Homo sapiens: one gene and its partner. The protein of the gene in region 1 interacts with the protein of each later gene in a biochemical or structural test. Each region holds a gene or a part of one and is shown on either strand. Other genes may lie near its edges.

Region 1 (3,500 bases):
GAGAGCCGAGTGGCCTCGCCCCCAGGATTCGGGGCCGGCTGCTTCTGGAGCTGACCCGAGTTCCATCCAGACAGCGCTGAACACTCTTATTAAAAGGCTATTTAAGTTTTATTTTATTTTATTTTATTTTTGCTTGCTTCTTGGGAGTGGTAGGAGGGGCATCGTGCTTTTGTTTTGAGGCAGGGGAGAGGTTAAAATTTACTCCAAGCAAACTTTTTGTCAGAAAAATGAGACTTTATACCGTATTCCATTTGTTGACTTTTTAAATACATTCAGGTCACTCTAAAGCCCATTCTTAGTCAATTAACAGATTAATTTCGTTCCAGACTGTCATAAAGAGTTCGCCTGGAATGGCAAATACTGCCATTCGACAAGACTAATAGAATTTCATGGGGGCAAACATGGAAGGGCTGCGAGTGTAACTGAGGTTCCTGTGCCTCAATGAGGAACCTTAGCGGGGACCTGGCGGGGACTGGAAGCTCAGCACCTATTTAGGGAGTGACTGAGCTGGAAACCTGGAGAAGCTTGGTGCAGACGAGACGGTGCTTCTTAGAGCTGCATTTTAAGTCCTCCCATTTTGCTGCATATTGGAAGAACTGGATTTTAAAGATCTTTTCCATCACCTCAGATTCTGTAGCTAACAGCCACGTCTTTTTCTTTTTGTCTGCTGAAAGCTGTGACCTAATTGTTTTAAGCACTTCTTGACAATTTCGCCAAACCCATCCTGAAAATATTCACATAAAGTCCTAAAATAGGATGTTGTGAGTGTAATATAAAAATAGGAAGGTACCAATGGAAGCAACAATTAGTGTTCTGAGATAGAAGCGGTTCCCAGTTTGTAACTTGGAAATGTTAAGAGCAGTACATCAGGGAGAAGGTCTCCAAGAGTCTGACTTCTTGTTCTGAGCTCTGAGTAAAGAAAGAAATATGTTAGAATTGTATTGTCTGCCCGCAGTAATATTGTAAAGGGTTCCAATGGATTCCAATGTGATTGAGCAATTACTTCCTCCAGCACCAAGTCCACAGTCCTTAATCTTCTTGTGAGAAGATTAGGTAGGAAGCGGGATGAGATTCAAGACAATCATTTAGGATTTATGTCAGAATTCAAAGTTTTGATTCTTTTGGTAGATAAAAACAGAGTTGGTTTTAAATTGTATTTCCTGCTTTCAAAAAAACGAGGTTTGAAAGGAATCCCCCTAGATTTACATAGGTTTACAGATGTAAGTTTCTTCTTTTTCCCTGTGTTTGCAAACTGGAGGGAGATGCCTTTGATATTCCAGAATACCTGTATCTATACACTTGTAAATTCTGCTAGGAAAGGACCTAAACAGCTAAACCAAAGGTGACCATGATTAATGTTAAAGATACTACCCATTGTTCTCTCTTTTGTTGTATTATTAGGCTTAAATACTTTGGAGTTAATGATTGGTCACTTAATTGAGTAACAGAGCCTTTGAGAGCGCAAAGATCAACTAACTCTGTCTCCCAAAGTCTGGCAACTAAGCCCTCCTTTCCTGGTGAGATTTAAACATTTTTGTTGACGTCATTCATGGACAAACATCGGTAAACACTGTATTTAAAATGGGATATTGCCCTGTGATGGAGCAGAACTTCTCAAGACACATGGTTCTTTTGAAAGAAAGAATTAATGACTGTAGTAAGGTATTTTTTCACCACCCACGTAGAGAAACCAGTTAGGACTGACAAACACTCATTGTTGGGAGTTACTTGCTCTGGTCTGAGAAAATATGCTGATTGTTACATAGGTCTGTATTTTACCAGAAAACACAAAGCATGTACTCTCCCTGATTTGGAATCAGAAAAGGGGGATTAGATATGGATGTCTTGGCCAAGCTCCATTTCAATTAGTGAATTTTTGCCAGTTTCCTCTTGTAGCCTAGACTTGGTAAATTACATATATATAAAGTCTGTGTGTGTGTGGGGGGTGCGTGTGTGTGTGTATGTATACAGGGTTTTTAAACACTGCTAAGTTCTTACCATTGAATGTGTTAGAGGTGGTTGTATTTCAGAGGTCAGTACAGAGAATCTTTGTTTAATGTGTCAGTTCTGTTTCCTGAAACACACCTCTGGGTAGATTTACCAACTATAAAAGGATACAAATGTATATACTTTCCACATCTGTATACATCCTACCTCATTCTTCTAAGGATTTTAAGAGGTGTTTATGTCTATAAAATGAGATTACATATTTTACAATAAACATATTTGATAAATTATAATCTTTTTATTATTAAATTATTGATTTGATATTACTTGAGGTATAGTGGAATGAGCACTAGACTTGGAATCAGAAAGTTTGAGTTGGACTCACTAGCTGAGAAAACCAAGCAAAGATATTACTTTTGGACCTTTAGTGTCATAATCTATTAAATGAATATGCAGTTATAAAGATCAAAAGAGTAAGTACTTTGAAAAACTATACAAAAAAGGGATGATAATATATTATGTCTTGGGATTCATATTGATCTAATTCTATAATTTTAATAATAACTGCATTACCCAAGCCATGTAGTTTCTACTGAATCTATAAAATAAATCAGAGAGGGGCATATTGTTTTAAAAATTGTTTAGTTTCATTAATCAGAAGACAGGTTACAGAAATTGACTCCAATGAAGTTGGACATTCAGTGGAAAGGAAGAATTATTCAATAAATGGTTTCAGGACAATTGATGGGTCCATGCAAAATAAGAATCAGTCTCTACCTGATTTCTCATCCTAAAAGAAATATAAGATGAATCAAATATGAAATGTAGGGAATAACTTTTTACAAAATGATAAAAGAAAATCATGGGATTAAAAAAAATAAGTTAGGAATAGAGAAACCTGTTCTAAGCAAAACATAAAACCCAGTGCCATTCTAGGAAATACTGATAGGTCTGACTAAGTAAAAATTACACAAAAGCAAATAATATATTTGGAAAACATCTACGACATTTGAGAGACAAAAAGCTAATAACTCTTGATATTCCATGGACTTTTATGAATAACTTTGAAAAGTCCACATCTATCAAAATATGAGCAAAAATTATGTACAGGTAGTGGCAGAAAGAGACATAGAGTTTTAAAATTATAGAAAAAATCGCTCAGCCTCATCTGTAATTAAATAAATAGTAATTAAAACACCAATGATATGCTACACCATTTTTTCACCAATCAGAGGAGTAACAAAAAAAAATAATTTTTTTCTTTTTTTTTTTTTTTGAGATGGAGTCTGTTACTCAGGTTGGAGTGCAGTGGCACGATCTCAGCTCACTGCAACCTCCGCCTTCCAGGTTCAAGCAATTCTCCTGTGTCAGCCTCCCTAGTAGCTGGGATTATGGGCACCCACCACCATGCTTGGCTAATTTTCGTGTTTTTAGTAGAGTGGGGTTTCACCATGTTGGCCATGGCAGTTGATCTTGAACTCCTGACCTCAAGTGATTCACCCACCTCAGCCTCCCAAAGTGCTGGGATTACAGGCATGAGCCACTGTGCCTGG
Region 2 (3,500 bases), on another chromosome or scaffold:
GAGATACTGATACGAGGTTGAGATCCTTGGGTGAGAGGCCCACACTCCTCCAACCCCCATGTCTGCTTCTGGAAGGTGGTGGCAGAGGAGAGAAGTAGAAGTACTATATGGGAGATGCGGGAGATTCTTGCCTTCTCTGTCGGTCTCTTTGGGCAATTATCAAGCTGTCATCTGACCAGATACTACCATAGCTTCTTCGGGGGCAAATCCGTAGGGAATCCTGACATCCGACGGGGAGCCACTTTGGCAATGGCAAACGGTGTCTCCTCTCCACAGAGCTTGTGATGTCAGAAATTACCCATAACTGGGGCAGGTTTTGTCTTCCCAAAGATTGTCTGCCCAGCTAGACCTGAGAGACAGGGAGACAAACACAGAATGAGGGGGTGGGTCTTGTGGGGGTGGGGAACGATGGAAACTCACAGAGCCAGATCTCCCCGAGTTTGAGTTGCACTGGCTGCCTGGGTGTGTCCTCCTGAGGTAAGTGTCCCTGCGAAGTGCAAGTGTGGGCAGACAGATCTCAGGTGGGTGGGGAGGGACTGAGTCACCAAGGAGGTGATTTGCAAAACTCAGGTCCCAGAAACTTTCAGGTCTTCAGCTTTTAAAAGTAAAGGTTAATTGCAAAACTCCGGGGTTGAGGGAAGAGATTATTCACATAGACCAGTCATTTTGAGCATCTGCTGTTGTGGCATTGCAAGTCTCCTTCGCAGTGCCTGAAAGTTCATTTGTTTTTGAGAGCTCTTACGCTTTTTCTGTTTGCATCTTTGCACAAGTTCTATGTTTCTGAGAACCCTCACCACTATTAGTAATAATAGCAAACACTTACAGAGTGTTGACCATGTACCAGCGCCATTCTAATTGTTTCCTATATACTGCCTTGTTTAATCCAAACACTGACTTCATGAAGGTGGTGCTGTTATTATCTGTCTTTTACATATGAGGAAACTGAGGCACAGAGAATTTAAGTAGCTTGCCCAAGGCCATGCAGCTGATAAGTGATGGCGCTGGGATTCAAACTCACATCTGGCTACAGAGTTCATGCTCTTTGTCACTATGTTAGAGTGCTTCTCTTGGTATATTAAGATATCGAGGCACCCTAGAAATCCAGACGATTGTACCTGGAAGTACTGTAGTTGTTTTCAAAAACTTCATTTGGGAATCTAGTTGTGGGTGAGGTCATAACATCCACTGAGCTTTTAAACATGATGTCAGAGGAAGGGGTTAGAATTGCAAAAATGAAGGAGGAGGAAGTTGTAATGGAAACTTCTGCCAATGCATATTCTGAGTTGACTCATTCATTCTGATCTCTGAATAGAAGCTCTACTCTCTTCCATGTGATGGAAAGTTGAGGATAGGGTAGGGCTGAGAGGGATGTGAATTGAGTTGTTTGTTCATTAGGATAGGATAGGGCTGAAAGGGATGTGAATTGAGTTGTTTGTTCATTATCACTTCATTATTTGTCACCTGGATGAAAGGTAAAGGTGGCTGATTAGTGTTTCTCCATCAGCTAGAACTTTGACTGGGAAATGAGCCAATCAAATAGCAGCAAAATATTTGCCCTCACCTTACAGGCCCTTGGTTCCAGGGTCTTCTCTCCACCGGCTAGAATGGATGAGGGAGGGAGAGAAACTCTGAGAAAAGAGGCTGTCAGGAGTAGGGCTGTACATATCCAGGGCACAAGGAATTTGGCAAAAGCTGGAAGTATACTATAGCCCTTCTCTCCAGCCCTAGCCTAAACCAGATGACCAGGCTTCTATTTGGCCCAGCATGTGACCATCCCATCAGGGAGCAAGAGAGTTTCCTCTGGGTACCCCTCACTGAGAAAAAAGCCACCCAGGAAGGGAGGAGGCAAGGCCCCCTGGGAACATCTGGCTCAGTCCACAGGAAGGGATGCAGGCCTTTTCCTGGGAATGAGGACTCATCCCATATTCCAGCCCCCTTCCCCCAACTTTTTTTTTTTTCAATTTTAGTGCATCTCTTTACACTTAACAGGTCTGCAGTGACTTCTAGGAGGATCCACACACCAATCGTGGAACTAGGCAGCATCTTTTTCCACTTCCTTTCCAAGATAGTAGCACGATAACAGTAAAGCCCCTTTGCAAGTGTTCACTATTATGCACATTAAGATGCCAGGGAGAGGGCTGGGAAAGGTGGCTCACACCTGTAATCCCAGCACTTTGGGAGGCCGAGGCAGGCGGATGACCTGAGGTCGGGAGTTCGAGACCAGCCTGACCAACATGGAGAAACCCCGTCTCTACTAAAAATACAAAAAAATTAGCCGGGCATGGTGGTGCATGCCTGTAATCTCAGCTACTTGGGAGGCTGAGGCAGGAGAATCACTTGAACCCGGGAGGCAGAGGTTGCAGTGAGCCAAGATCACGCCATTGCACTCCAGCCTGGGCAACAAGAGCGAAACTCGGTCTCAAAAAAAAAAAAGGTGCCAGGGAGAAATGAACAATTCCATGCAGCCAACACCTGGTCTCCTGCGTTTGGCTTAGAAGGGCATTTCTGCCCAAGCCCCCAGCTCTAGTCTTTGCACACTTTAAATGAGTAGCTACTACATGCCAATCACAGATGTTGCCTCTGCTGAGTATCCAGTCAAAAAACCAGAATCTAACAGAGCTAACTAAGCACCATCTTGCAGGAAACCAGCTGACGTCAGCTCCGCAGCCACCAGTGAGTTACTGGGCCCACATCTGCCTGCAAGAGGGGGAGGGGAATTCAGGTAACCCACAAGAGGGGATAAAAGTTCGGGGAAGAAATCTCCTGTCAAGGAGTTTGTTTTTGCAGTGGATCCTCTGCAGTGAGACTAGTTGTCTTTACAATATCATTAGAGGTCAGGTACATTCCTGTAGACTCCCTTAAGTGACTTGCTTTCTCCTATTGTTCCCCCTGAAAATTCATAAAAACCTCACAAACACATCTCCATTTAAAAAGAGAAAGTTTAAAGGATGCCATGTAATGGTTATCTCTTTTCTTTTGCCAGTGAGCATAAAAGCTCCTTAGGGAAAAGCCCAAACCCTCTATACATTTTCATATTCATGATAGCCCTGAGCGGTCAGCACAGTTCCCCAATTATAGTGGGTGCTCAATAAACACTTGGATGGCTTACTGAATTAATAATGTTTCTAGACTTGGCTAGCAAAGCCATCTCCGTTACTTATCTTTTGTGATTTTTATAGGTTCTGTCTAATTCTTTTTCTTCATTTTTTTTCTTTCTGGTCTATACAAATCTTCTTTCATTTTTCTCTATTGCTACTTGTAGCGATCCTCAACCCGCCTCCTCCCTTGAAATTTCTGTTCTCTGCACTCTCTTCAGTCTAAAGAGATCTTTCTTGAGGTTTGAAATGTTACACAAGGCAGGGGAAGTTTAGAGCTAATTGTATTTTGTCCAGTAGAACGGGGATCTGGATTTCCTATAGGTCTGGCTGCCTCTTTGTCTACACCTTTACTTCCAAATCTGGCCTCATGTATAAAAAGACCCCAAACCTTAAAATCATGTT

The links. Proteins that work in one complex are often made in the same cells at the same time.
Region 2: the proteins of VCAN (region 1) and CD44 form a complex in vitro, tested with the Homo sapiens proteins (one study listed by BioGRID).

What each region holds. Positions count from the first base shown.
Region 1 is NC_000005.10:83,474,744-83,478,243, forward strand, and holds part of VCAN (versican core protein isoform 1 precursor), read left to right. Parts: intron 1-3,500. UniProt on the Homo sapiens protein: May play a role in intercellular signaling and in connecting cells with the extracellular matrix. May take part in the regulation of cell motility, growth and differentiation. Binds hyaluronic acid.
Region 2 is NC_000011.10:35,145,671-35,149,170, forward strand, and holds part of CD44 (CD44 antigen isoform 1 precursor), read left to right. Parts: intron 1-3,500. UniProt on the Homo sapiens protein: Cell-surface receptor that plays a role in cell-cell interactions, cell adhesion and migration, helping them to sense and respond to changes in the tissue microenvironment.